Linked DNA regions of Homo sapiens. The protein of the gene in region 3 purifies or fractionates together with the protein of the main gene of each other region. This does not show direct contact. Each region holds a gene or a part of one and is shown on either strand. Other genes may lie near its edges.

Region 1 (7,184 bases), on a different chromosome or scaffold from region 3:
ACTCCTAAGGTACATAAAAGACTATTTTCAAATGGGAGACTGGAGCTGTTGGTAGCTGAACCACCTACTTTACAATGGATTCACCTTCTGTGAAATGGAGAGTGAGTGGTACAATTATCTGAATTATTTATTTAAAATGTCCATTTGTTATACAAGCACGATATAAATTATCTGGATAATTGCTTCTTTTCTCTCTTTTGGCCATGGCCACTTGACCAACTGTGGATTATTGTCTTGGCATGTTAGAAGCCCCCAGATAATACTGGGGGACAATTTTTCTCCTCCTACAACGTCACAGTAGATGATTTGCACTGCAGCTTGTGGTGCCTTGATGCTTCTTTTGGACTTAGAGACCTTCTTTCTTGGCAGCCTTTGCTGAGACCACGAGGTGCTTGAGTCAAAGATAACAAGCTCCAGGGGGCCTATTAATAATACTTGAGTTAGACTGGGATAAGAAGTATCTCAAAGGTTAGACCAACTCTGATGAAAGCCTTGGAAACTGATGCAGACTAAATTTCAGTGACTAAATTAAGATTTGGTGTGTATGCATGTGTTGTCCTAGAGTCCTTAACAAGGTATTAATCTGATTATAGAACCCTTGAAAGCACTTGTTTGCTCACAAAGGAATTTCTGTTTCATTTGCGTATACACATTGTAAGGCCAGGAATATTTGTTAATAATTCTATGTGGAATAGTACTTTAAATTTTTTCTTTTATTTATTTATTAAGTTTGACTGTTAGCACCTATCTTGATATCCTTAGCATTATAATCTTAGGTACTCTAGGCCTAGATACATGATATCTACCAAATTATTGCTGTGGGAAGAGGCAAGTGCCTACTTTCAGAAAAGAGATTTTTCTAGGATTTATTAAAATGAATGCTTACTTACTTCAGCATGTATTATGTTGACTCTTAAATCTGTGCTGAGTGTGGTGAGGGATGCTGGATTTCAGTCACCATAGGTCTTGTCTCTTAGCACGGTCTGATCAGTCTTCATCTGGAGGGCTACCAAGGAGATTAGAATAATTCCATACTTGACTCAGAAATTCACACTGGCGGCCGGGGGTGGTGGCTCACGCTTGTAATCCCACCACTTTGGGAGGCTGAGGCAGGTGGATCACGAGGTCAGGAGTTCGAGACCAGCCTGGTCAACATTGCAAAATCCCGTCTCTACTAAAAATACAAAAATTAGCCTGGTGTGGTGGTGCACACCTGTAGTCCCAGTTACTCGGGGAGGCTGAGGCAGGAGAATCGCTTGAACCCAGGAGGTGGAGGTTACAGTGAGCTGAGATCACACCACTGCACTCCAGCCTGGGTAAAAGAGTGAGACTCCGTTTCAAAAAAAAAAGAAAAAAGAAATTCAGACTGTCTTTGTAATGTGCAGGGTCCAAATTTGGACCCTCAAGGTCACACCAGACTGGAATTCAGTTTGTAGTTGAATAAGCCTTTGTCATTCTAGAGTTGCCTCAGTCTGACGCTGTAGACTTAGGGAGGCTAAAATCACGTATTTCTCAGGAAGAGAGATGGAGATAGGAACAAGTGAGGGGAGGAGGATAGGCTGAGCAATTTATATTCAGACAGAGACAGAAGATGAGTAAGATGAATGTGTGTTCAGTTCAATATAAAATAGTATATTTTGTGTGCTAACTCATATGGTAAAATAAAACTTGTGCTTTTAACCTTTTCTCTTTTATTCTACATTTATTACTCATTCCTCTCCTGGTTCCACCTGCGAAGTTACTTTTGCCTTACCCTGAATATTGATGAATTCTGCTTAGTGTCAGGACCCATGGCAACATAGGATTCAGAAAAATCCTGTTTGCTCCTTTATTATTGTGCATCTAGAATAGTCATCTATCCTGAGCCATTTTAGTAGCTTACCTCTTCAAATTGCTTAATATGTTGCATCAGACTATGTTGGACCTCAAAGCCATATTGGGAAATTCAGCTTTTTGTCTGTGTGGTTTTTTTTTTTGAAAGTATAAATAAAAATGACTTTCATTTGTTCCGCAGAATTTCTTCCCTATTCTTCTTCTTTGTGTGTGTGTGTGTGTGTGTGTGTGTGTGTGTGTGTGTGTGTGACAGGGTCTTGCCCTGTTACCCAGACTGGAGTGTGGTGGTGTGACCATGGATCACTGCAGCTGCAACCTCTCAGGCTCAAGTGATCCTCCCCACCTCAGCCTCCTTAGTAACTGGGACTACAGGCACACCCCATCATACCCAGCTAATTTTTAAAATTTTTTGTAGACAAGGGGGTCTCACTATGTTGCCAGGGCTGATCTTGAACTCCTGGGCTAAAACAATCCTCCCCCCTCGGCCTCCCAAAGTGCTCGGATTACAAGTAGGAGCCACTATGCCTGGCCTCTCCCCAATTCTTCAACTCCTGCTGAATAACTGTATATCACCATTTGGGCTTTTAGAATCTTCTACTCTGTGAGTATTTTGAAATAGGCAACCTGTCAATATATATGGATTAAGCACAATTCTGCCAAAGGTAAGGAGTTGGACCAGTCTTGTTGTTAACATAAAACTAAGTAGTTTATTTTTTTCTTTTAAAATATTTTAAAACTAAGATATACTTTATATACAATAAAATTCACTCTTTGTAGTGTAGCATCGTATGAGTTTTGACAAATGCGTACAGTTGTGGAACCACCACTGTAATCAAGATGTAGAACGTTACCCTCAAGATTTTTTGTGCTCCTTGGTAGACAGCTCCTCCCACCCTCAGCCCATGACAGTCATTCATCAGTTATTTTGTCCCAATAATCACAATAGATGGAGGCTGAGGCAGGAGGATCACTTGAGCTCAGGAGTTTGAGACCAGCGTGGGCAACATAGCAAAACCTTGTCTTTACAAAAAAATAAAATTAGCCAGGCATGTTGGTGCATGTCTGTAGTTGCAGCTACTTGGGAGGCTGAGGCGGGAGGATAGCTTGAGTCCAGGAACTGGAGTTGCAGTGAGCCATGATCGTGCCACTGCATTCCAGCCTGGATGACAGAGTGACACCCTGTGTCTATAAACAAACAAGAGCCACCATGCCTGGCCTAGAGTAAAGTTTTTGATATTTGAATAATATGCCATTAATTACATGTGTCCCATTCTTTTTTTTTTTTGAGACAGAGTCTCGCTCTGTCAGCCAGGCTGGAGTGCAGTGCACGATCTCGACTCACTGCAACCTCTGCGTCCCGGGCTCAAGCAATTCTCCTGCCGTAGCCTCCTGAGTAGCTGGGATTACAGGGGGGTGACACCACGCCTGGCTAATTGTTTTTTTTGTTGTTGTTTTTTTTTTTGAGACGGAGTCTTGCTCCGTCGCCCAGGCTGGAGTGCAGTGGTGTGATCTCAGCTCACTGCAAGCTCTGCCTCCCGGGTTCACGCCATTCTCCTGCCTCAGCCTCCCGAGTAGCTGGGACCGCAGGTGCCTGCCACCATGCGCAGCTAATTTTTTTTGTATTTTTAGTAGAGACGGGGTTTTGGGCGGGTGGATCACGAGGTCAGGAGATCGAGACCATCCTAGCTAATTTTTGTATTTTTAGTAGAGACGGGGTTTCACCATGTTGGCCAGGCTGGTCTTGAACTCTTGACCTCAGGTAATCCACCCGCCTCAGCCTCCCAAAGTGCTGGGATTATAGGCGTGAGCCACCATGCCTGGCCGTGTTCCACTATATTTTTCTCTTTAGAGGTTTTCTTAGATTCTTAATTAACAACTAATATTGAATGTCTAAATGGTAGATTGTAAGTCTGTACTAGAGTATATATGTGGTATAATTTCTGCCCTCAAGGAACTAACAGTCAGGTTTGGAAACAGATAAATAAAAAAAAGATTCCTTTTAGAGTTCCAAATTCTATGATACCCTGGAAAGGATGTATTCCTAAGTGGAAGGACAAACGAAGGCAGTCCAGGATGGTAGAGCAGCATGGGCGAATAAATAGGAATGGGTGTGGTGTGTAGGCAGAGGATGCTAGGAAATCCTAATGGATGTGTTTGAAGGGTTAGAGATGAGAGAGAGTCAGGGTGACATCCTAGAGGGCTTTGAACATCAAACATCAGGCCAAGGTGGCTTGATGGACTCCTTAGTAGAGAATTTTTGTGGGTTTGAGCAGGGTCGTTACCCAACCAAAGCAGTATTTTAGGATTCTGAAGCAGCACTTGGATTTCTGAATGAATGGAGAGACAGAGTTGAGAGAACCAGCTGAGTGAATGGAGATGAGAAAAAAGTGTAGTACAATTCTAGCTTGTGAGTCTGAAAGAATTGTGTTATTCAGGTAGAAATAGTATTCAGTCAACGATTAGACTGAGGTACTCTGAAGACGTACAAATAGAAATCTCCTATAGGTGTTTAGCATGGTGGCCCATATCTGTAATCCCAGCACTTTGGGAGGCCAAGGCGGGAGGATTGCTGGAGACCAGGAGTTTGAGACCAGCCTGAGCAATGTGGTGAGACCCTATCTCTCCAACCCCCTCCCCACCCAAAAAAAAATTAGCCAGGTATGGTGGTGCAAACATGTGGTCCCAGTTACATAGGAGGCTGAGGTGGAAGGATCACTTGAGCCCAGGAGGTTGAAGCTGCAGTGAGCTGTGTTCACACCACTGCACTCCAGCCTGGGTGACAGAGCAGAGCAAGACTGTGTCTCAAATAAATAAGTAAGTAAGTAAGTAAATATCCTGTAGGTATCTATGTGACTCAAGGCTAGTCACTTTCCTATCTATGCTCCAGTTTTCTCATATTTGAGACAAGAGACTTGATTTTAGCATAAAGGTGAGAGTTGAAGTAATGAGTGTGAAAGAGGAAAGGGAGAAAACATACAGAGAAGAGCAGAAAACACAAGCAGCTGGTAGGCAGAGAATGCAGAAATTCAAGTTAGAGCTGTTGGAAGATGTGGTAGGCTGACTAATGGTGCCCCAAAAATGTCTAAGTCCTAATCCCCAGAACATGTAAATATGTTACCTTACAGGGTAAAAGAGACTTTGGGGATATGATTAATTTAAGGATCTTGAGATAAGGAGATTAGCCTGGATTATCCAGGTGAGCCCAATATAATCACAAGCATCCATATAAGACAGGCAAGAGAGCAGAATCAGAATAGGAGATGTGATGAAGGAAGCAAGAGATTGCAGGGATTCCAGGAAGGTTCTGTGAGCCAAGGAATGCAGGTGGACCCTAGAAGCTGAAAAAGGCAAGGAAGTGGATTCTTCTCTCAGAGCCTCCACATAAGGAACCAGCCCTGCCAGCAATTTGACAACTCAGCCCAATGAGACTGATTTCAGACTTTTTTTTTTTTTTTTTGAGACTGAATTTTGCTCTTGACCCCTAGGCTGGAGTGCAGTGGCACAATCTTGGCTCACTACAACCTCCGCTGCCCGGGATCAAGCGATTCTCCTGCCTCAGCCTCCTTATTAGCTGGGATTACAGGCGCCCACCACCACAACCAGCTAATTTTTGTATTTTTAGTAGAGACGTGGTTTTGCCTTGTTGGCCAGGCTGGTCTCAAACTCCTGACTTCAGGTGATCCACCCGCCTTGGCCTCCCAAGGATTACAGGTGTGAGCCACTGGGGATTACAGTTGTGAGCCACTGCATCTGGCCATGATTCAGACTTCTGACCTCCAGAATGCTATGATAATAAATTTGTGTTGTTTTAAGCAACTAAGTTTATGGTAATTTGTTATAGCAGCAATAGGAAACTAATACAGAGAAGAACCGACAAACAGTGATATTGAGGTATTTCAAGGAATGGATGGTAAATAATGTAAAAGGAAATTGAGGAGAAGGCCTGTAAAAAGACTGTTGGATTTGGTCATTTAAACTTTGAAAGAGCACTTTCAGTAGAGATATTTTTGAAGACTTTTGTGGAGGTTATATGAAGTTTTTTTTTGCATTAAGGATAACTTGTCTTTCTGTTGACTTTTGGGAGAAAAAATATAGATTTTCCATCAATATAATTGTAATTTAAATGAGGGCCCAAAATATGTGGCAAGACACTTTAAAAGCTGAATTCTGGCTAGTTCAGGTGGTTTCATTATTCATCAGTTAAGAATATTTTAGGATATTAAACCTGATAATAGGGGCAAGAAAGTTATGTCCCTATTACTGATGGCTGCTTATCTAGTTTATTTTACTTCTCAGTCTAGTTTGGCCCATTTCCCACTCATTAGCACTTCCACTGGAAGGCAGCCTTGGGGGAACAGTGATAGGGAGGTTAGTACCAATAAACAGTTTTTTCTGCCATTCTCTTACATTTATTTCTTGAGTGTCTACTGTGTATCTGATTCTGTGCTGCTTGTTACTTTTACTTAGCAGTAGATACAATTTAGAAACTAACTTGAATTTTGGGATTGGTCTCCAGAATAGTTGGTTACTATTATAACTTATAATAGGAAATTGGCTACATAACCGATTTCTGTTCTAGCATTCTGGCTCTTGAGGAGTGTCAGGGGAGTACTATATTTATCAGTATTTGAGACTATTTTATGCTTATGGAGGAGAATTACATATATATCTTCTCTAAGATGGTGAAATATGGAGGTTTGGGATGTCTAATAAATCTTTAATGGTTCAACATAGTAATAATAAATCCAGATTAAGACCTTGGCCCAGAATGTCATATAGGACAAGGAATTGAAGCCTCATTTGGATTGCTAATTGAGTGCTTGCCCAATTTGTTGATGTTGTTTTTGTCTGTGAATATGTTGGGGTTTTTCCTGCTTTTGAAGTGTCATTTAAAAAAATTGTTTCTTCTGATCTTAGATTGTAACCAGTTTGAGTAAAATTTGGGGGCTTAAAGTTTTATCAGGCATGCAGAGTTTATGTTTGTTTCATGAGGCAATTCAATTGAAAAACTGAAGCTTTGCCCAGGCGCGGTGGCTCACGCCTGTAATCCCAGCACTTTGGGAGGCCAAGGCAGGCAGATCACGAGGTCAGGAGATTGAGACCATCCTGGCTAACACGGTGAAACCCTGTCTCTACTAAATATACAAAAAATTAGCCGGGCGTGGTCGCACGCGCCTGTTGTCCCAGCTACTCGGGAGACTGAGGCAGGAGAATCACTTGAACCCGGGAGGTGGAGGTTGCAGTGAGCCAAGGTGGCACCACTGCACTCCAGCCTGGGTGACAGAGCGAGACTCCGTCTCAAAAAAAAAAAAAAAAACTGAAACTTGAGTTTTCAGTATTGGAAATTGACT
Region 2 (7,184 bases), on a different chromosome or scaffold from region 3:
CTCAAAAAAAAACAAAACAAACAAAAAAAAGATTTAGAAAGGAATTTGATACCTGTCTTCCAATATTTGAAAATACTGTAGGTAGAGAATAATTTAAAACCCCTTTTAGTAGGTCATTAAGTAAGATGCTTAGATTATCACTTTTGGGGGATGTTTTCAGGGCTGGAGAAGAGGACCTTCCTCAGTTAAAAACAGACAAAAAATTTACTCCTTATCCATTCTGCTTAATTGGGCTAAATGAAATCCTTCTATTTTTTTCAATAGAGCTAAAATTTTTAATCTTCAGTTCTCTAAATCCTTTTTAAAAATGTGGTTCCATCTTAAAATTAAATTACATTATTTTAAAAAATGTAGTTAGGAAGTTAAAATGTGATGTTAAAATATAATTATTAAAATATAACTAGTTCCAATCTAAAAAGAAATTATAAGATTGCATTATTGAATTTCAAAGACCATTTTCTGAAGACTTTTCCTTAAAACTTACTAAGATATTAAACCTGTATGTTTTATTCATATGCATTGATAGATATTTACATTCACAGGTATTGTATTTACAACTAACGATTTTTCAATTTACTACTGTAGATCATACCTCACTCCTGTTAGGGATGAAGAGTCTGAATCCCAAAGAAAAGCAAGATCTAGACAAGCAAGACAATCTAGAAGATCAACACAGGTATAGTTAATGTAATTAATATATAAAACTTACATAAGTAGCATATAAAATATATATACACACACTGACATAAAACAAGTTACCTTTCTCTTTTTCACTTTGTTGTGAAAATATTGATGTCAGTATATAGTGTGAGTAAATCCTTAAAAGGTAAAGGTTGCTGTAGTTATTCTAGTAATTCTAGTGTGAATAAATCCTTAAAAGGTAAAGGTTGCTCATAGCCTTTTGTATGGTTACACTGCTACTATTGTATTTCATCTAATTAGCATATGCCTTTGTGTCTTTTTGAGTATTTTTTAAATCCTTATTCCTAATACAGTGTCTGGCCCAGAGTATTTGGTTAGAATAAATTAATCATATGATGTCTAATAAGTATTTAAAAGTTCTATGAATATTTGGAAATCGGGGGCAGAGAATAGGCTCGTATATTAGGTATAAACAACTAATATGCAAGTATGAAGAAAATGTCATTCAGGCTGGCGATCTCCTTACCTCCGTTTTGCCATTCTGATTATGCTGTATATGATGTATACTTTTGTGTCTTTCTGCTTTCCCACAGTTAAGAAGCTCCACAGTCCAGATTCAGCTGTCTATCCTTACCATTACTTAGCTTTCAAGCTGAACTATTTGCTAGGGCCTTAATATACTTTTTCTGTCTTTATACTTTTCACTTCTTGAAATCTAACCTGTTCTTCAAGGTCAAATCTTGAAAAATTTATCGAAATCTCTTTTAAGCCTTAACAATCATCATGCATGTGTATATAGATACATATACACACATATATATACACACACACAGACATATATATAAACATAAATATTTATAATATACAAACAGTACAGATACTGGCTATTCTTCTCTAGTTTGAACTTGTGGGGAACATTTATATGCATAGAGTATCCAGTACCTATCGTTGTGCTTGCTAATGGTGATTCTTCATAGAATGAATGTAACTTGCTGTTTCCATTTGCAAACCAATTTTAAACATGCATATTTGACTTTTAATGCATTTGTATGTAATATATCTATTTCTAAAATATTCCTTGAAACAAGCTTTAATGCATCTCATAATTATATTGATCTTTTTGTGTGTGCAGGGAGTGACATTAACTGATCTTCAAGAAGCTGAGAAAACAATAGGAAGAAGTCGTTCTACCCGAACCAGAGAACAAGAAAATGAAGAAAAAGAAAAAGAGGAAAAAGAGAAACAAGATAAAGAGAAACAAGAAGAAAAGAAGGAGTCAGAAACATCTAGAGAAGATGAATATAAACAAAAGTACTCCAGAACGTATGATGAGGTAACAGTATATCAAAAGCACATTTAAGTCAAATGGTATGAATAGTCCTTATGATCCTTAACATACAAGAGATTTATATACCAACAAACCATATGCAAAATACTGTAAAGGATTTTAGCTGGAAATTTGAATTACTTTGGCGTGATTAGTATACTACTTTTTCTTTGAAATGAATTTTTAAGTATTTTTATGTTTTTAATTGTGTTTAATGTTTCAAATGGGTTTTGATCTTAATGTTTCACAGACTTACCAGCGTTATAGGCCAGTATCAACTTCAAGTTCAACCACTCCATCCTCTTCACTTTCTACTATGAGCAGTTCACTGTATGCTTCAAGTCAACTAAACAGGCCAAATAGTCTTGTAGGCATAACTTCTGCTTACTCCAGAGGAATAACAAAAGAAAATGAAAGAGGTAAGAATACCAAATTTTGAAAACACTTTGCTTTCTTCATATAATCCTTTGGATTAGGGTTTCCTAAATAATAATTCAACAGTAAAGGAACAGCATCCTAACTTGTGATTCATCGAACCTAAACAGAAAGAATATGAAGGTTGAGAATGAGAAAAGTAGAAAACAGAAATAGAATATGGCCTGCTGTTGATACTAATATTTTTATAACCTAATACTTCACAAAAATCTTCATGTCCACCTACAACGAAAAGTTAATATCGAACTGGTGGGTGACTATTTCTAGAAGCAGTTTACTAGTGTAGTACTTCTCAGATGCTTTAAGCTATTTCTTGCCTACTGTGTAGATCATATCATTTAAATGTTTTTTTGTGAAATTGTTGTAAACTAAAATTACTAACTACATGTAATGCTCTCACTAAAACACATTTTTATGCTTATTTCTTAAAAAATACATTTCTTTCTCAACTATATATTGGCATATTGATACTCATTACCATTTCCTATTATTTTATATAAACTTTCTATTTAAATTCTGAGTAATTCCTACTTTAAATCAGATATAAGTACTAAATATAGGCATTTCATATTTTAAAGCCTAAATCTTACAGTATTAGTCATGATAATATCAGTAGTAATGTAGAATAAACAGCAGAAAATAAAGTTTTTTCCCAATTTCCAGCTATATATTTTCTCATGTTGATCATTGAGATGTTTCAGTTCTTTAAACTTCTATGTGTGAGGCCTGCATTGTGTTTGTAAAAATGTTGAACCAACATTTAAAATTAGAGATACTCACTTCAAACTTCAGATTTTTGCCATTTCTTGAAAAGTTGGCTGACCTGGCAACACTGGATCTGAATTCTCACATACCAACAATTGGCTGGAGCTAAGTAGTAGCAGCTGCCTACCTTCCATCCCCCTAGATAGTCCCCTGGCCCATTTTACCCATTGTTTTTACAATTACCTTGCAAAATATTGTCAAGATATATTGCTATATTGTGGTTCATTGCAATCCTTAACAGAGGGAGAAAAAAGAGAAGAGGAGAAAGAAGGAGAAGATAAATCACAACCTAAATCAATCAGAGAACGACGACGACCAAGAGAGAAAAGAAGATCTACAGGAGTTTCATTTTGGACACAAGATGTGAGAACCTATTAAAATACATTATTTGATAGTATTCTTGATAGTATTCTTAATGTGTCCAAAAATACATACTAATAATTTCTTATATGCCTTAGATTTCATATTCCTTAAATCATCACTGTGTTTTCTGAGTTGTTAAATAAGAAAAATTATTTTTAAGGATAGTTAACTACTTAGATTGTTGGTACTACTTAAAAGGAGTGGTTCTGACCTAATTATGGAATAGAAATAATAATGTCTGAAGCTCAGAGTGCATGTATTGATTATTTTATAATAGGTAAACTGCTTCTTGTAAAAACATCTTTTAAGAATTTCTAAGGAGTCTATTTAATTTCATTTTCATAAATATCATTATAAGATCTACATTACAGATTACTTCCATCTCAAAGCATGCTAAATAGACACAGTGCTTTGCTTATCAAATTACAACAGTCTTGTAAAAATTAGTGTTTTCCTGGTCCTTGATTGTAGGCCTGACATTGCTATTCATTGATTTTGTTTCCATTTTCTAAAAAATAAACCTTTTATTGAAGTATGGCATGTTTAGAAACATAATTCATACATGTATAGCTTAATGGATTAGCACAATAGGAGCATATCTATGTAATCACCACTCAGAATGATGAATAAAAACAGCAGTGTAGATTGCCCCCATGTTCTCCCTCTCAATCCCTATCATCCTCATTTTCAAAGTCAGCTAGTATCCTGATTTCTAACACCGTAGTTAACTATGCCTGTTTTTGAAGAGCATATGACTAGAACTATAAATTTTATAACTGTTATGTTTATAAGATATATCTATGCTATTTTATGTAGCAGTACATTTACTTCTATTGTTATAAAAATATTTTTTAAAGAAAATTTCTAACTATTCTTTCACTGAAAGAACATGGAATCATCTGTCTTCCTGTTAAACTGACCCATCTCTCACTATATGTTCCTCTTTATCTCTAATATTATATCTGACCTTAAATTCTGCTTTTTTGAAAAGCTTCCTTTTGATTATCTTTGTATAATATATCTTTTCTGTTATTTTCAATTTATTTGTGTTTTTTTTAATAAACAACATATTTAGGTCAACTTTTTTCTGAACTTTTTTTTAATTGCAGTGTTTCAGTCCATTTTAATTTTACTTAATTACTAATTACTTAATTACATGAAACAAATAACATTGTCATTTGCAGTTTAAAATATATAAAGAGCTAAGGCATATGAAAACAATAGCACAAAAATATGGGAAAGTATTAAATGGAGTTGAAGAGTTTTAGTATCTTCGCATTGTCCATGCTGTGGACAAAATATATATTCAACTTGATGAATCAAGAGTGCATATGTCTATTTAAAAAAGTTTAAAAAGAGAGGGAAAATCATACATAAATGACAAAGAAGGGAAGAACAGATGGGGAAATCGGAAAATAGTTTTCTATTTTTCTTTTGATTTTTAATATAGAAAAGTTAAACATATACTTTATAGAAGTAACATAATAGTATAATGAGCCCTACCCCCAGTATTCATTTTTTCAGCTAAATTCCCACTCCATCTCCCAACTCCCATATTATTTAGAAGAAAATCCTAGACATCTCATTCTATCTACAAATGTCTCAATGTATATTCTGAGAGAGAAGGACTCCCAAAAATAATTTTAAAAAATAAATTTTGAAATTATTACTAAAATTTCCTAAAATATAAATTGGCAATCTGTTTTTAGAGTGATGAAAATGAACAAGAACAACAATCAGACACAGAAGAGGGATCCAATAAGAAAGAAACTCAGGTAAATACCATTACTTTTTGTATTGAGAAGTATTCATATTTTTTAATAATTACTTTTAAATTGCGTTTTATTATGTTTATTCATGCAAAGCAGTTATTGCATACTCTACCTACATGCTGGGTATGCAATATCAGTGTTTGCCTGGGGATCAGGATTAAAAGGACTGGGAAGGGTCACAAAATAATGTTTTGGAGGTGATGAAAATGTTCTGAGTCTTGATCCTAGCAGTGGTTTTATGGATATACAGAACTGCCAAAACTCACCAAATTGTACACTCTAAGTGGATGTAATTTAATGTATGTCATTTAACCTTCGGAGTTAAAAGAAAAAGCAAAAAAAGAAATAGTACCCTTGGCCAAAGGAAAATATCTAAAGGATAATCAGAAGTAGTGGAAATCCAGAAGTAGTAGGCTCAGATTTTATTTCTGTAGATTTTATTTCAAAGTTATGTTCTGGAGAATATAGGCATCTTTTAACTTTCTTTTACATATATTTAGAAATTTAGAGTCTCCAACAGATTTTTATGTTGAGAATCTAAAAGACATTTTTTTCCTCTCAGTACTGATGAAGGACCTAAAGCAAGTTTGAATGACAAGGCTGCACAGCCAGCAAGGGTTGAAAGTTCCCCCGACCCCCTTCCTGATTGTTTGGCTGTGTAGAAAGCTAAAAAATATTCAAAATATTTCTGTTCATATGAGGATAGAGCTGAACAACACGAGTCTAAACCTGGCACTGTCTAGCATGAAATAGCATTCTGGTCATATTAATATTATTTTCTTCATTTTGAGTTGAAGTTCCTTAATAGAGCTATTACATTTCTTTTTAGTCAGCAAGGATCTACAGTAATGTGAACAAAAGTTGGTTACCTGTGCTAGGTGACGGTGAACATTATTTTAGGGCCAAGTTTGCCTATTTTGACCCCACAATTTTATTTTATCTTTAGGTGGCCAGACAATGAGGAGTGAATTGGTTCTGAGGTTAAATTATTTGCAGGCCTAAAGCTTTAACTGTTACCTAAATTTTTTGGTTATCAGTTATCAGAACTCCCCAATTTACCTATGTCCCTTCTTTATTAAACAAGAGGGGAGGAAATTAGTAAACCATCCCCATCTGACACCTCTCATTGCCTTATCACGCAGACTCCAGCCCCCACCAGGCTGGAGTGGAAGGGAGATTGTCTGGCTTTTAAAGTTGTAATTTTGAAGCATATTGATGTATACTGTATTTTAAGTTTTACTGTTAAAATCATATGAGATACGTTAAGATGAAGAGGAACATTGTTTCTAAGACGAAAAGTTTTTTTATTTTCAATTTAAGTAGTTTTTGTTTACTTTAGATTGTTTAGAGTTCTTTTAAAGTAATGAATAACATATAAATAAATATAACAAATATAAATAACAATATGAAACCTAAGTCAAACTGGATTAAACAAAGAAAATGTATTGTACTCCAGTTATATTCTGCAGTCCTTTGTGTCAGCTTCATCCTCAGGCTGATGTACCTCATAGGGATAGGATTATAGTTGGCTTAGGATAGACAGGGCCTATCACTGAACTGTTGCAGCCATTTTGCTACCAACATGGGCCATGTGTCATCTCACCTAAACCTAGTAACTGCTATACCATGAGAAAAAGGAAGAATGGATGTAGATAAATAAATAAGGTGCAATGTATGTGCATAGATCAATATTTTCTATATTCACATAGATATTATGTGTCCAGAAAAGGTTGGTTAGATAACAGTGGTTATCTAGAGAATGGAGGGATGAGGAATTACACAGGAACTTTGTATACCATTATGTGAACTTTACAATACCATAGTCAGAAAGATATTTCTGAATATCTTTCTATATATTTTAATCTTTTTTATCTTTAAAA
Region 3 (7,606 bases):
GTCTTCCCCTGATGTTCTCTGAGGAAGCAGTGTCCCATGGAATCAAAAACTGACGGAACTTGCCAAGCACAGAAGTCAGTGCTCAAAACCACTATTTGGCCACCAAGCACTGAACAGGTCTTGGTTTGCTCAGGGCCCTGGCAGTCTTTATGGTCATGATGCTCTGCCCTGGCCATCTTCAGAGTCACCCATAGAGCCTCTCTGGTCCCGGCCCCACCCCCCAGATCCTAAATGAGTTCACCACAGGTGGGACGAGGCATTTGCAAGAAACTCGAATCTCAGAATGATGAAAAAGGGTGAGCTCCCTCACTTGGAGTGCTGACAGTTTAGCTGGGGAGACTCCATGTGAAGATATAAACCCTGGCATGGACCTCTAAGGCCACAGATGGAGTCAGTGTGAGACAGCATGATAAAGACAGTGCCTGTGACTGCTGACGGGGTCAGAAGCCCTGCATCTACGGGACAGGGTTAAGTGAAAGGCTACAAAGAGGAGGCAAGACTTAAGTGGTGAGGACAGTGGCCATACATCCCAGTTTGCCTGGGACTGTCTCAGTTTAAACCCGATGTCATGGGTAACCCCTCCAGTGAACAGCCCCTTTTACTCTCACCTGTGCTGGGCTGGACAATCAATTATTCAGTCACCCTAGTTATGAGCTACCAATGCCTGCCTTGCTGGAAACCAAACGATGAAAAGCAAGTGTTCACTGTCTCACAGGGAGAACTAGGCAAAGGATGACTGAAAAATCAGTTCAAACCACTAATCCTTAAACTCACAGCCTTACCTTGCCCAGCACATTTATCTACACATGAGAGCCATTACTAAGACAAACACAGACTAGGAAGCAGAGGAACTCCGCCGCCACCGCACAGGAGCCGCGGGGGTACCCTGGAGAGGACGATCAGCCTCAGGGCAGGCCATCTAGAAGAATTACCAATAACACCAACCCATTCGTCTCTCTATAAAGTGCTGACATCTGTGCTCTGGAACTTACAGCTGAGAGAGCACAAAACTTGTCTGACTCAGCACAGTCCAGGAAGTCAAGCAGCTCAATCTCAAACAGGACAGTGGTGTTTGGGGGGATCAAGGGAGGGCAGCCCAGCGTTCCATAGGCGTAGTTCGGTTTGAACAGAAACCTGGCCAGCTCTCCTCTCCGCATGCTCAGAAGGCCCAGCTCCATGCCCCACAGTGTAATATCTGTAAGAATGGACAAAGAAGGTGGGTGAAGCTTGCTCAGTATCCTGCTCAGTGCTATCAGTTTCTTCCCCCTCTAAGTCAGCAGTACTCTGGCCTCCATGTCTCCCTCACACAGTTCCCTCTTCCTGCAATGTCTTCCTCCTGAGCCTGTGCCCAGCTTCTACTGATATAAATTTTATTCAAACTTCCAGGCTCAGTTCAAATGCCCCCACTTCCAGGAAGCCTTCCCTGAACCTCCCAGCTAGAATTAATCATGCCTTCATTAAGCACACCCACAACACTGCTTTCACCTCCCAGGCACTCATCCGATTCTACCAAGTGAGCTGAGTGCAGGTCAGTCTCCTCCACTACATTGTGAGGTCCTTAAGGGTGGAGATGTTCTAATCTTCTGAGTACATCCTCTCTTTTCACCATGTATTGTGGGAAGTAAGTATTCGATTGAGTTTTACTTAATAAATGAACAAAGAAACATTCCCAGTGGTTAGTTAAGTCAGAGTGCAAAGATTATACCTTGCCCGTTAAGCCATCTCCCAAATGCCTAGGTCTCAAGGGGAGAGAACATGGCTGTGTTACCAAAACCCAGCCTCAGCAAAGCCAACTCAAAGAACCTGCGCTCTGAGCAGTCTTCCCAGCCTGAGGCATCGTGCCTCATCTAGCCCCTAAACAATTCCTTCTTCTCCAGCTCCCACTCTGAACCTACCCTCTCCAAGTTTCATTAGCCGAGGAGTTTTCCTAAAGTAATTAGAATCGAAGGGTCTGTCCATGTGTTCCAGGTATCCCGAGTATTTCACTAGGATAGAAGAAAGAATGTAAGGAAAATGGACCAAAAACACCCACGCCACCATAATATCGAGTCTCTCATGATCACACAGAAACAATGTGAACAGATGAGCTTAAGCTGCCCGACACCCCGAGGTACAGGAATAAATCTTCTCTCTGCATTTTGGGTGCCGGCCCTTTGGCTCAGAGGTTCAAGAGCTTTGCGGAAGCATCACACAAAGGGGACATAGGAGTCCCTAGCTTTCGTCTTAAAAAAACTAATTCAGGCCGGAAGCAGCGGCTCATGCTTGTAATCCCAGCTACTGGGGAGGCTGAGGTGGGAGGCTCACTTGGGTCCAGGAGTCTGAGACCAGCCTGGGCAACATAGAGTCCCCCATATCTACAAAAATATTAAAAATTAGCCGGGCATGGTGGATCGCGCCTGTAAATCCCTTATTTGGGAGGCTGAGGCAGGAGAATCACGAGCCCAGGAGGTGGAGGCTGCAGTGAGCTATGATCGCACCACTGCACTCCAGCCTGGGCAACTGAGCAAGACCCCGTTTCAAAAACAAAAAACAAAAATCCACTTCAAACAAAGCATTTCCAACCCCATTAAGTGCTTTTTGAAAATGAGGCCTCTCTCTTCCCAACAGAGTGCGATGACATGGATCCTGAGGACAAACCGCCCCAGGGCGTACCTAGCACCGAAGCATCAGGCGCCACTAGGTCTCCAGCTCCTTCTCGGATGACGTCCTTCAGCACGCCCCGGTCCCCCGAGATGTCCAGCATCCTCTGACTTAACCGCTCGTACAGGGACTGATGGAGAATGAAAGCCAGGCCTCAGAGCCGCAGACCCACCCGGCCACCCCTCAGCGTCTACGCCCCCGAAACGTCTGGGCCCTCACCTGGCCGGGGGCGTCGTCCCCTTCCAGGACTCCCTGGTTTAACGCGCTTCCCCCCATGTCCTAGCTGCCCTCCCTGTGGCGTGAGCCTTCGGCCTGGTGCGCCCCGCTGCCCTCCCTGGCTGTGACTCTGGTGGGGTTCCGAAGGCCCCTTTATGCCCGGCAGACCCCTACCGACGGCGGCATTCCATTCTGGGGCCACGAGGAGGCACTCATCGTTTCGTTCCAACCGCCGCCAACGGCCCTGGCCCTCGCGAGCTCTGGAACTACAGAGGCCACGCGGTGAGGTGCGAGGTATGATCCGTAATGGGAGCGCACGAAACATGATGGGACACGTAACGGGACCACGCAGGGCACGTTGGGTACGTGCAGGGGCGCGAGGTGGCGGCACGTAATGGGAGCGCGCAGAGCATGATGGGGCACGCGCGGTAGCGCGAGGCGGGGCATGTAACCATAGCGTGCGGGTCATGATGAGGCACGGACGTGGGGGGTTAGGTGGGGCACGTAATTGGAGCTCGCGGGGCAGGATGGGGCATCTAACTGGAGCGACAGAGAGCACGATGGGGCACTTACAGGGGCCGGAGGCTGGGTACGTAACGAGAGCGAGCGGGAAATGATGGGGCACCTAACGAGCACGCAGAGCATGATGGGGCACGGGTGCGAGGTGGGGCGCACAGTGGGAGCGCGTGGGGCATGATGAGACACATGGCGAGGCCATCAGGGCACAGGGGAAGCACTTTTGGAACACGTGAGTGACAGGGCTGCCGCCCTTGAAGGAGCCCTCGGAGTGGCTGCGTGGTGGGGCACGTGGGGCAGGTTCAGGAAAAAGGATGCAGCATGTGATTGCAGGGCAACCTGGTGAGGACACGAGAGCCACCTGCCACCAGCAGGGTTCAGGGCTCCCAGCTGTGGGTTACTTCCACCTTCTTTCACTTTCTCTCTTCCATTGTGTTCTAGAGAATTTAGGCCCAGACAAGACACTGATTGATTGATTGATTGATTGATTGACAGAGGCTCGTTCTGAGCCCAGGCTGGAGTTCAGTGATGGATCTCAGCTCACTGCAGCCGCCACTCCCTGGGCTCAAGAGATCCTCTTGCCTCAGCCTCCCGAGTAGCTGGGATTACAGAACTGCACCACCAGGCCCAGCTAATTTATTTTTTAGTTTTTAATTTGCTGGAAAGATGGTTTGTAGCTTTGTTGCTAGGCTGGTCTTGAACTCCTGGCTTCAAGTGATCCTCCAGTCTTGGCCTCCCAAAGTGCTGGGATTATAGGCGTAAGCTACAGCCAACTTTCAATACTGCCCCATTGGGGGTTAAGTTTCCAACACATGAAATTAGGAGGATACATTCAAACCACAGCAGTATATTATGACCATAATATTCATTAACTGTATAACAGGACAGGCGCGGTGGCTCACACCTGTAATCCCAGCACTTTGGGAGGCCAAAGCCGGTGGATCGCTCCAGGTCAGGAGTTTGAGACCAGCCTGCCCCACATGATGAAACCCCATCTCTACTAAAATTACAAAGAATTAGCCGGGCATGGTGGCAGGCGCCTGTAACCCCAGCTACTTGGGAGGCTGAGGCAGGAGAATCACTTGAACCCGGGAGGCGGAGGTTGCAATGAGCCAGATTGCGCCACTGCACTCCAGCCTGGGTAACAAGAGCAAAACTCTGTCTCAGAAAACAAACAAAACCTGTATAACAGAGTGTCATTGAATTTCTAAACGTTGAAAGACTTCACATTAAAAAAAAAACTCACAATTCAATATTATTGAGTGAAAGTAACCAGACACAAAAGAGTACATTCTATATGATGCTGTTTATGTGAAATTCAAAAACAGTCCACATGACAACATGGTAATAAGGACAGTGGCTGTCCTTGTTAGGAGTTATGACTGGGAGGAGGCAGGAGGGAGCTTTCTGGAATCACTCTACATCTTGTTCTTGAGAGTGGGTGTATATACATCAAGTGTTTATCAAGCTGTGTGGTTAAGATTTGCACACTTGTATATGTTATACCTTGATTTAAAAAATCTAAGTAAATAAGGATACCTTTGAATATCTTAAAAAAAAAAAAAAAAGAGGCCAGGCTTGGTGGCTCACACCTATAATCCCAGCACTTTGGGAGGCTGAGGTAGGAGGATTGCTTGAGGCCGGGAGTTCAAAACCAGCCCAGGCAACAAAGCGAGACCCCTGTCTCTACTAAAATAAATAAAACAATAAAATGAAAAAAAATAGAGAGATTGAATCATCATCTGCCAGTTTGTATTAGAAAAAAAGAGAGAGAGAGGGAAGGCTGGGTGCAGTAAGGCTCACGCCTGTAATCCCAGCACTTTGGGAGGCCAAGGTGGGAGGATTGCTTGAGCCCAGAAGTTGAAGACCAGCCTGGGCAACAAAGCAAGACCCGGTATCTAAAAAAATTTTTTAAATATTAGCTTGGCATGGTGGCATGCACCTGTAGTCCCAGCTACTCAGGCAGCTGAGGTAGGAGGATGGCTTGAGCCTAGGAGTTGGAGGCTACAGTGAGCTATGACCACGCCACTGCACTCCAGCCTGGGCAACAGAGCAACAAGCTGTCTTTCCCCACCCCCCAGCCCCCCCGCCCAAAAAAAGGAGAGTAAGAGCAAGAGTTTGAGATTCAGAAAGAACTGTTTCCCAGCACCTATCTGCTCCTGTTGGGGTCATGAGGTGTGGACGGTGTACCCAGTCCCTCTGTTTCTGCCCCTCCTCCACAGTGGCCAAGGCCAGCACCTGAATGTTATCAGAGCAGGCCCAACAAAGGCTGCCTCCCCAGTCCCGTGATGTAACCCAGTTTCCACCTGATTCTGGTGACCTTGGGGACACAGGGGTGTTGCTGGGAAAGGGGAGGAGAGAAGGGGCAGAGACCAGGCAGTGGTGCAGGCGTCCAGCTGCATTTCCCACTTCTGACTCTGTGCCTGCTGTTCCCTGCTGGGAAGAAGGAAAGCCAGTGATGCTGGCTTGAGGCTGTAGTGGGAGGCCCAGCGGATTGTGAGAAGCCAGGTATTCCAATGTCGGGCTCCCCCGGGGGCTGCTGGTGCTGCTTCTGTCTCATTGACAAGCTTTCATAGGGGAGCAGGTGGGAGATCAGGGTAGAGGCCTTGTAGGTTCCAGGCTCTCTAGAATTACCTGGGAGTGTCACCTATAAGTGTAGAGTTCTGGGTCTCACTGGAGACCCCCTGAAGAAGATCCTTTGAAGGTGGGCCTCTAGAATCTCTATTACACCTATGCTTTCAACAGTTTCCCGAAAGTTTGGGAACTGATCTAGAAGGTGGGGAGCTTGCCTAGGTTTTGCTGTTCAGTTCTAGGTCCGGATGCATGCTGGGGCTGGACCTTGCATTATTAGTGTCACTGCAAATGACCCTGCAGATGGCCCCTTTCATGCTTGTCTCCAAATTTGAGTAAAAAATGTAGACACACACACACACACACACACACACACACACACACACATATCTTCAAGGGACCAGTTTTTTTCACTGCAGTCTTTTGTTTTACAGCTGCGGAAACTGGGGCCCAAGGTCATGTGGGTTAGGACTGGGATCCAGGACTCAAAGTGTTTCCTCTAAAATTCTGGTGCTCCTTAGGGTTGAGGGTGGTGGATGAGTGCTGGACAGGGGGAGGGGAGGGGACAGGACTGAGGTCGGATGCCTGTGTTTCAGCCCGGGCAGTGAGTGTGGATGGCTTGGCAGGTGAGCCTGCCAGAGCTGGAGGACCGGCTTCAGTGTCCCATCTGCCTGGAGGTCTTCAAGGAGCCCCTGATGCTGCAGTGTGGCCACTCTTACTGCAAGGGCTGCCTGGTTTCCCTGTCCTGCCACCTGGATGCCGAGCTGCGCTGCCCCGTGTGCCGGCAGGCGGTGGACGGCAGCAGCTCCCTGCCCAACGTCTCCCTGGCCAGGGTGATCGAAGCCCTGAGGCTCCCTGGGGACCCGGAGCCCAAGGTCTGCGTGCACCACCGGAACCCGCTCAGCCTTTTCTGCGAGAAGGACCAGGAGCTCATCTGTGGCCTCTGCGGTCTGCTGGGCTCCCACCAACACCACCCGGTCACGCCCGTCTCCACCGTCTACAGCCGCATGAAGGTGGGGAGTGAGGGTGCAGGGGCGGCTGGAGAGGCCCGCGGGGACCAGATCCTGTGCTCTCTGGTGCCATCACCTGGCACCAAAAGGATCCAGCTATCCTCGATTTCCCTGCAGCTGTGCCCTGGCGCATTCATTCCTTAGCGTTTGAGCTGCAGCTCAACCCAGGTGCCGGGGATTGAAGCCACACGAACAGGATGGGAGCTCCCTGGTGTCACGTGCTCACCCCTTCCTGTTTTTTTATTTGCAGTTCTGGTTTGTTCCTTTTTCTTTTCTTCCTTCTCCTTCCCTCTTCCCTCTTCCCTCTTCCTCTCCCTCTCCCTCTCTCCTTTCTTTTTTTTCTTTCTTTTTGGAGACAGCGTCTCACTCTGTTGCCCAGGCTGGAGTGCAGTGGTGTGATCATGGCTCACTGCAGCCTCCAACTCCTAGGCTGAAGCAATCCTCCCACCTCAGCCTCCCGAGCAGCTGGGGCTACAGGTGCACACCACCATGCCCAGCTCATTTTTCATATTTTGTAGAAATGGGGTCTTGTTATGTTGCCCAGGCTGGTGTTGAACTCCTTGGCCTCCAATGATCCTCCTGCCTGGGCCTCCCAAAGTGCTGGAATTATAGGCATGCACCACTGCCCTAGGCCCCTTGTTTGTGTCTGGACA
Region 4 (7,923 bases), on a different chromosome or scaffold from region 3:
TCCCCTGAGACCCTCCCCCACCCACACTCCCCTCAGACCCCCTCCCCTGGCTCTGGCTCAGCTCTGCCTTGCTCCTAGCCTGCCAGTGCAGCCACGAGGGGGCACTCAGCAGTCTCTGTGAAAAGACCAGTGGGCAATGTCTCTGTCGAACTGGTGCCTTTGGGCTTCGCTGTGACCGCTGCCAGCGTGGCCAGTGGGGATTCCCTAGCTGCCGGCCATGTGTCTGCAATGGGCATGCAGATGAGTGCAACACCCACACAGGCGCTTGCCTGGGCTGCCGTGATCACACAGGGGGTGAGCACTGTGAAAGGTGAGACTGGAGCAGCTATGAGTGGGTTGGTTGGTGGGCAGGCTTCCCAGGGATGACACATTTCTTCTTCCTCCTCCCTGCAGGTGCATTGCTGGTTTCCACGGGGACCCACGGCTGCCATATGGGGGCCAGTGCCGGCCCTGTCCCTGTCCTGAAGGCCCTGGGAGCCAACGGCACTTTGCTACTTCTTGCCACCAGGATGAATATTCCCAGCAGATTGTGTGCCACTGCCGGGCAGGCTATACGGGTGAGTGGATGGGGGCAGGCGTGGGATCAGGGTGAGTTGGCTGGGCTGAGCACTCACAGCTTCCTCTTAACCGTGGGCAGGGCTGCGATGTGAAGCTTGTGCCCCTGGGCACTTTGGGGACCCATCAAGGCCAGGTGGCCGGTGCCAACTGTGTGAGTGCAGTGGGAACATTGACCCAATGGATCCTGATGCCTGTGACCCCCACACGGGGCAATGCCTGCGCTGTTTACACCACACAGAGGGTCCACACTGTGCCCACTGCAAGCCTGGCTTCCATGGGCAGGCTGCCCGACAGAGCTGTCACCGTGAGTATGAGTGTGGGAGGGCATGGCTGAATTGGGGTTCTGCTTCTTGGCCTCCTCTTGACTACTGTGCTCATCTTGGTTGGCACAGGCTGCACATGCAACCTGCTGGGCACAAATCCGCAGCAGTGCCCATCTCCTGACCAGTGCCACTGTGATCCAAGCAGTGGGCAGTGCCCATGCCTCCCCAATGTCCAGGGCCCTAGCTGTGACCGCTGTGCCCCCAACTTCTGGAACCTCACCAGTGGCCATGGTTGCCAGCCTTGTGCCTGCCACCCAAGCCGGGCCAGAGGCCCCACCTGCAACGAGGTATGGGACCCTCCTGCAGATCCCTGGTTAGATGGGGCCAGGTGTCTGTCTTATCTCCAGGGCTTAGCCTCTTATAGAGGCTCTGACCCTGCCTTGTTCCCACCCCAGTTCACAGGGCAGTGCCACTGCCGTGCCGGCTTTGGAGGGCGGACTTGTTCTGAGTGCCAAGAGCTCCACTGGGGAGACCCTGGGTTGCAGTGCCATGGTGAGGGAGCCAGCGGGGCCAGGGTAGATGGAGGACTTCCCAGAATGCCCCACAGTGACCCTAACTCTGTGCTCTGCTCTTTCTTGCAGCCTGTGATTGTGACTCTCGTGGAATAGATACACCTCAGTGTCACCGCTTCACAGGTCACTGCAGCTGCCGCCCAGGGGTGTCTGGTGTGCGCTGTGACCAGTGTGCCCGTGGCTTCTCAGGAATCTTTCCTGCCTGCCATCCCTGCCATGCATGCTTCGGGGATTGGGACCGAGTGGTGCAGGACTTGGCAGCCCGTACACAGCGCCTAGAGCAGCGGGCGCAGGAGTTGCAACAGACGGGTGTGCTGGGTGCCTTTGAGAGCAGCTTCTGGCACATGCAGGAGAAGCTGGGCATTGTGCAGGGCATCGTAGGTGCCCGCAACACCTCAGCCGCCTCCACTGCACAGCTTGTGGAGGCCACAGAGGAGCTGCGGTGCGGAAGGGCCTAAGAATACATGGTGGGATGGGGCAGAGGCCCAGTGGACCAGGGCTGAAGCCTCTCTAAACACCCCCCTCTCCATCATTGCAGGCGTGAAATTGGGGAGGCCACTGAGCACCTGACTCAGCTCGAGGCAGACCTGACAGATGTGCAAGATGAGAACTTCAATGCCAACCATGCACTAAGTGGTCTGGAGCGAGATAGGCTTGCACTTAATCTCACACTGCGGCAGCTCGACCAGCATCTTGACTTGCTCAAACATTCAAACTTCCTGGGTGAGTTGTTAGCCAACTAGGCAGGTGGACCAGGGTCAGTCTTCAGCTGACTGTCTGCCTCTGCCCAATTTAGGTGCCTATGACAGCATCCGGCATGCCCATAGCCAGTCTGCAGAGGCAGAACGTCGTGCCAATACCTCAGCCCTGGCAGTACCTAGCCCTGTGAGCAACTCGGCAAGTGCTCGGCATCGGACAGAGGCACTGATGGATGCTCAGAAGGAGGACTTCAACAGCAAACACATGGCCAACCAGCGGGCACTTGGCAAGCTCTCTGCCCATACCCACACCCTGAGCCTGACAGACATAAATGAGCTGGTGAGGTTGAAGTGTTGGGTGGGGCAGGTGGGTGTAGATGTTCCTCTCACAGGGCCCTGACTTGTTCTGTGCCTGGCAGGTGTGTGGGGCACCAGGGGATGCACCCTGTGCTACAAGCCCTTGTGGGGGTGCCGGCTGTCGAGATGAGGATGGGCAGCCGCGCTGTGGGGGCCTCAGCTGCAATGGGGCAGCGGCTACAGCAGACCTAGCACTGGGCCGGGCCCGGCACACACAGGCAGAGCTGCAGCGGGCACTGGCAGAAGGTGGTAGCATCCTCAGCAGAGTGGCTGAGACTCGTCGGCAGGCAAGCGAGGCACAGCAGCGGGCCCAGGCAGCCCTGGACAAGGCTAATGCTTCCAGGGGACAGGTGGAACAGGCCAACCAGGAACTTCAAGAACTTATCCAGAGTGTGAAGGACTTCCTCAACCGTGAGCCTCCCACGTGTCCCAGGCCATGTGGTTGTCCCCTTTGGCAACTCCCGGTGTCTGTATCTCCCTTGGTTCATACTTGAGCCTCAGGGACTACACTGGATTAGTGTTTATGATCCCTTGACTGGCTCCTGAGTTATTGCCCATATGTGGTCCCAGGTCCATGTTCTTGAGTCTGAGCCCCTTGTATAGTCCCTGTCCTTGTGATTATATCCTTATGCCTGGTAACAAACCCCTATCCCATGTACATGTCCTGAGTCCATACCCCAAAACTGTATCCTCATGCCCATGCTGGAGAATCTATGTTCTTAAGTTCTTGCTGTGTCCCTATAGAGGAGGGGGCTGATCCTGATAGCATTGAAATGGTGGCCACACGGGTGCTAGAGCTCTCCATCCCAGCTTCAGCTGAGCAGATCCAGCACCTGGCGGGTGCGATTGCAGAGCGAGTCCGGAGCCTGGCAGATGTGGATGCGATCCTGGCACGTACTGTAGGAGATGTGCGTCGTGCCGAGCAGCTACTGCAGGATGCACGGCGGGCAAGGTCTGACCCCATCCCTGGCCCCTATCCCTGACACCTGGTTTTGATACCTCCAGGTTCTGATTCCCCCTTCTCCCCAGGAGCTGGGCTGAGGATGAGAAACAGAAGGCAGAGACAGTACAGGCAGCACTGGAGGAGGCCCAGCGGGCACAGGGTATTGCCCAGGGTGCCATCCGGGGGGCAGTGGCTGACACACGGGACACAGAGCAGACCCTGTACCAGGTGAGGTCTTCCTAGGACATCAGTGGGACAAGGTTATGGGCATGAACCGTAGATCTGTGTAACCTTTGGCTCACCCATGGCAGGTACAGGAGAGGATGGCAGGTGCAGAGCGGGCACTGAGCTCTGCAGGTGAAAGGGCTCGGCAGTTGGATGCTCTCCTGGAGGCTCTGAAATTGAAACGGGCAGGAAATAGTCTGGCAGCCTCTACAGCAGAAGAAACGGCAGGCAGTGCCCAGGGTCGTGCCCAGGAGGCTGAGCAGGTGGGTTGAGGCAGAGCCAGCTGGAGAAGGTAGGGGTGGAAGATGGGCCTCCACTGAGCTACCACGCTAACCTAACCCTCTACATCTGCAGCTGCTACGCGGTCCTCTGGGTGATCAGTACCAGACGGTGAAGGCCCTAGCTGAGCGCAAGGCCCAAGGTGTGCTGGCTGCACAGGCAAGGGCAGAACAACTGCGGGATGAGGCTCGGGACCTGTTGCAAGCCGCTCAGGACAAGCTGCAGCGGCTACAGGGTAAGAAATGGGGCACCAGAGACACAAGACTGCGGGAAACCCCCCCTAAACTGACACCTGCCCTTCCTAGAATTGGAAGGCACCTATGAGGAAAATGAGCGGGCACTGGAGAGTAAGGCAGCCCAGTTGGACGGGTTGGAGGCCAGGATGCGCAGCGTGCTTCAAGCCATCAACTTGCAGGTGCAGATCTACAACACCTGCCAGTGACCCCTGCCCAAGGCCTACCCCAGTTCCTAGCACTGCCCCACATGCATGTCTGCCTATGCACTGAAGAGCTCTTGGCCCGGCAGGGCCCCCAATAAACCAGTGTGAACCCCCACTGTGTTGTCTGGACTCTGATTTGGGGCGGGCGGGGGAGTCTCCAGGGGAACCTCGAGGTTGCCCCCAGCAGAACCCATGCACCGCTAAGCCACCCGAGCACCGCCTCCTTCCGCTCGGGCCCGCCCCGGAGCTGCGGGTCGCTCCGAGCCCATTCCCGCCGGAAGTGCGTCACCAGCTTGGCGCTCCGCCTCCCTCGGCCTTAGCTAGAAGTCGAAACAAAACAAGCCGCTAAGGCGGTGGCGGCGGCGCCGGGACGGGGGAGGGGCGCGCCGGAACCGGAACCGACCTGCGCCGGAACCGGAACGGAGAGCGGGTTGCCAGGGCCCGAAGAGGGCTGGCTGCGGCGGTCTCGCTCGGTGAGTGGAGCAGGCTGCAACTCGCTGGCTTGGCCGCAGCGGGGAGGCCGCAACGCGCGGCCGCGGCGGCCTGTTCAAGGTCACGGGCCGTGCCAGTCCCTACCCCTAGTGCCCCGCAGCGTGCCAGCCCACTGATGCCGGCAGGGCCGTTACGCTATGCCTGTGGCCAGCCTCCCACCTGGGAGAGGACTGGCGGCCAGCGAGGGCAACTTCGTGGGAGAGGTGGTGGCGGGCTCGGGGTTCAGAGGCTGAAGCTGGGTCGCAGCTCGACCGGGGCGCTGATCTGTGGTCAGTAACCCCGCGCTGCCATTTCAGGCCGGCTCGGGTCTCTAAACAGCCCCTTACCCGCCTCGACGTCCCTGGGGCATGGGGGAGGGACGCGACCTTCGGCTGGGGCCTGGGTGCAAGAAGGAGGCGCCGGTGGCAGGTGTCATTAAAGATCCAGCCCACCAGTACCACATCTGACCTGTAGAAGGGTATCCTGCCATCCCTCCTTCCTCCTTTACACACTTAGGGGAACACAGACTAGTCATTATCTGTCCTGCTACTGGTTCAGGCCAGGCTTGAGGCTGCCAGGAGTCCTGGATCTGTGGTCCTCCCCAGCCTCATCTCAGTATCTAGTTTCAAGACCTTCATTTTGGAGGAGGAAACAGTCCAGAATCCACTGGTGGGTCTGTGGGAAACTGTAGTGGTCCTTGTGGCTCAGAGCTCATGAGTGAAGGCATCTGGGAAGGAAGGTGATAATTTCTGTTCCAGTCTCAAACTGGATGCCCATCCTGCCTTAGTACTGGAGCAGGGTTGCTGCTGAAGAGGTAGCGTGACATCTAGATACACTTTTCAGTCCCTTTCTGCTTGGGACAGCAGCTGGGGAGAGGACTTTCTCTTGAAATGAAGAAGGACCAAGCAGTACATAGGAGCAGGTTCTTGCCAAGGGTGGGAGCTGGCAGGAGGCAGGTGGAGTGCCTTAGCCCCAGGACTTTTTCTGGGCAATGGTAGAACCTGGGTTGAGCCTGTTTACAGCCACAGAGCCTGGTTCTCCTGCGGCTTGTCTCCTGTCCTGCCTTCCTCCTCCACCTTCTATTTCTCCAGTGGTGACTAAGCAGCCAGTGAGAGTGAAGGAAAAGTGAGCACCCTGCTCGGAGTGCCAGCCCTGTGGGCTGGAGCCGTGGCTCCTCTCCAGATTGGTGGAGTAGCCTGGTCCCAGGCCATGACTTCCTTGACCTGGTGCCCCCTCAGTGAGGCTTTCACCTGTGTGGGACTGTTATGGTGGGTATCTATGAGGCTTGGCCAGAAGTGGTTGCTGCTACTTGCATTATTTATTACCTCTTCAGAATATCCTGAGAGTGTCCAGGGGTACTTAAGAGATGAGAAGATACAGCTCTGTAGCATTAGTGTCCTGTGTTGCTGAGCCCTGGGTGTAGCTAAAGAGCAAGTTGTTGGGTCTTGGCAGTGATCACTGGCTTCTTTCCATTAGGCTGTCCGTTCCTTGCTGGAGAATTTGGCCACAAAGAGTTGCCAAGATAGCTGGGCCAGGAAGAAAGCGCCGCAGCCCTGACCCAGACGCTGTTGCCGACCCCGGGGCACTCTGGCTGTCGACCAAGCGGCTCAAGATGTCTGGCGGGGCCAGTGCCACAGGCCCAAGGAGAGGGCCCCCAGGACTGGAGGACACCACTAGTAAGAAGAAGCAGAAGGATCGAGCAAACCAGGAGAGCAAGGATGGAGATCCTAGGAAAGGTGGGAGTGGCATTCCCAGAGTAATTGTGGCCTTCTCTGCCTCCCATCTTATTGGTATACAGATTGGGGTTTGGGAGATGACTTTCTTGTTCTTCTCTCTGTCCTGGTTTGATGATGAGAGAAGAAGGACCCATGATAACCTCAGTAGAGCCTCAGCTTTGAAGCCTGAGTACTTGGCTAAGATCCAGAAGATGGTGCTGTTGGGGGGCTTGCCTTCTTTCCTTTTTAAACTTTTTTCTTTTTTTTGAACCTGTTCTTTTTTTCCTTTTTTTTTTGAGATGGAGTCTCATTCTGTAGCCCAGGCTGGAGTGCAGTGGTGCAATATTGGCTCACTGCAACGTCCACCTCCTGGTTCAGGTGATTGTCCTGCCTCAGCCTCCCAAGTAGCTGGGATTACAGGTGCATGCCACCACGCAAGGCTAATTTTTTTTTTTTTTTTGAGACAATGTCTCACTCTGTCATCCAGGCTAGAGTGTAGTGGCGTCTTGGCTCACTGCGGGCTCTGCCTCCCGGGTTCAAGTGATTCTGCTGCCTCAGCCTCCCAAGTAGCCTCAGCCTCCCAAGTAGCTGGGATTACAGGTATGCACCACCACACTCAGCTAATTTTTGTATTTTTAGTAGAGACGGGGTTTCACCATGTTGGCCAGACTGGTCACAAACTCCTGACCTCAGGTGATCCACCCACCTCGGCCTCTCAAAGTGCTGGGATTGCAGGCGTGAACCACCGTGCCTGTCCCTTTTTTTTTTTTTTTTTTAAAGGCAGGGTCTCACTCTTGCACAGATTGGAGTGCAGTGCAGGTGTGATCGTAGCTTACTGCATCCTCAAAGTCCTGGGCTCAAGCAGTCCTCCTACCTCAGCCTCCTCACCATGCTTGACTAATTTTTCTTATTTTTTTTTTAGAGACAGGGTCTCGATATGTTGCCCAGGCTGGTCTTGAACCTCTGGCCTCAGGTGATCCTTCTGCCTCAGCCTCCCATGCAGCTGGGATCACAGGCTCACGCCACCGTACCCGGCTGTTCTTTCCTTCATCGTCAGGGTCAGCATCCACTCCTCAAGAGGAGCAGACCAAAGAGGGTCAGTAACGAATGGGCTTTTTGTTGCTAGGGAAGGGGAGGGGGCACTTGCAATTTGGCTCCCATCTGAAGCAGTTTCATTAGGCTGGGTCTCTGTTACCTGCTTATCACCATCAGGAGCTTGTGAAGACCCTCATGATCTCTTGGCTACTCCCACTCCAGAGTTGTTGCTCGATTGGAGGCAGAGTGCAGAAGAGGTGATTGTCAAGCTTCGTGTGGGAGTAGGTCCCCTGCAGCTGGAGGATGTAGATGCTGCTTTCACAGATACAGACTGTGTGGTGCGGTTTGCAGGTGTGTCCATCTGCCCT

Evidence for each region.
Region 1: the proteins of FKBP6 (region 3) and PPP1R12B purify together in Homo sapiens (affinity purification with mass spectrometry; 3 studies listed by BioGRID and IntAct, with this or other methods). This does not show direct contact.
Region 2: the proteins of FKBP6 (region 3) and PPP1R12A purify together in Homo sapiens (affinity purification with mass spectrometry; 3 studies listed by BioGRID and IntAct, with this or other methods). This does not show direct contact.
Region 4: the proteins of FKBP6 (region 3) and USP19 purify together in Homo sapiens (affinity purification with mass spectrometry; 4 studies listed by BioGRID and IntAct, with this or other methods). This does not show direct contact.

What each region holds. Positions count from the first base shown.
Region 1 is NC_000001.11:202,351,549-202,358,732, forward strand, and holds part of PPP1R12B (protein phosphatase 1 regulatory subunit 12B), read left to right. Parts: intron 1-7,184. UniProt on the Homo sapiens protein: Regulates myosin phosphatase activity. Augments Ca(2+) sensitivity of the contractile apparatus.
Region 2 is NC_000012.12:79,791,986-79,799,169, reverse strand, and holds part of PPP1R12A (protein phosphatase 1 regulatory subunit 12A), read left to right. Parts: intron 1-585; coding exon 586-676; intron 677-1,774; coding exon 1,775-1,975; intron 1,976-2,219; coding exon 2,220-2,388; intron 2,389-3,410; coding exon 3,411-3,532; intron 3,533-5,241; coding exon 5,242-5,307; intron 5,308-7,184. UniProt on the Homo sapiens protein: Key regulator of protein phosphatase 1C (PPP1C). Mediates binding to myosin. As part of the PPP1C complex, involved in dephosphorylation of PLK1. Capable of inhibiting HIF1AN-dependent suppression of HIF1A activity.
Region 3 is NC_000007.14:73,323,739-73,331,344, reverse strand, and holds the start of FKBP6 (inactive peptidyl-prolyl cis-trans isomerase FKBP6), read right to left. Parts: upstream 3,185-7,606; 5' UTR 3,073-3,184; coding exon of another isoform or gene 3,031-3,072; 5' UTR 2,917-3,030; coding exon 2,860-2,916; intron 2,771-2,859; coding exon 2,653-2,770; intron 1,986-2,652; coding exon 1,896-1,985; intron 1,196-1,895; coding exon 993-1,195; intron 1-992. Other genes in the region: E3 ubiquitin-protein ligase TRIM50, read left to right, coding at 6,558-6,956. UniProt on the Homo sapiens protein: Has an essential role in spermatogenesis. It is required to repress transposable elements and prevent their mobilization, which is essential for the germline integrity.
Region 4 is NC_000003.12:49,117,640-49,125,562, reverse strand, and holds the start of USP19 (ubiquitin carboxyl-terminal hydrolase 19), read left to right. Parts: upstream 1-4,739; 5' UTR 4,740-4,807; exon of another isoform or gene 4,808-5,095; intron 5,096-6,281; 5' UTR 6,282-6,417; coding exon 6,418-6,541; intron 6,542-7,442; coding exon 7,443-7,616; intron 7,617-7,732; coding exon 7,733-7,906; intron 7,907-7,923. Other genes in the region: LAMB2 (laminin subunit beta-2 precursor), read left to right, coding at 79-310, 394-557, 638-862, 951-1,168, 1,277-1,373, 1,463-1,835, 1,932-2,116, 2,190-2,431 and 6 more. UniProt on the Homo sapiens protein: Deubiquitinating enzyme that regulates the degradation of various proteins by removing ubiquitin moieties, thereby preventing their proteasomal degradation. Stabilizes RNF123, which promotes CDKN1B degradation and contributes to cell proliferation.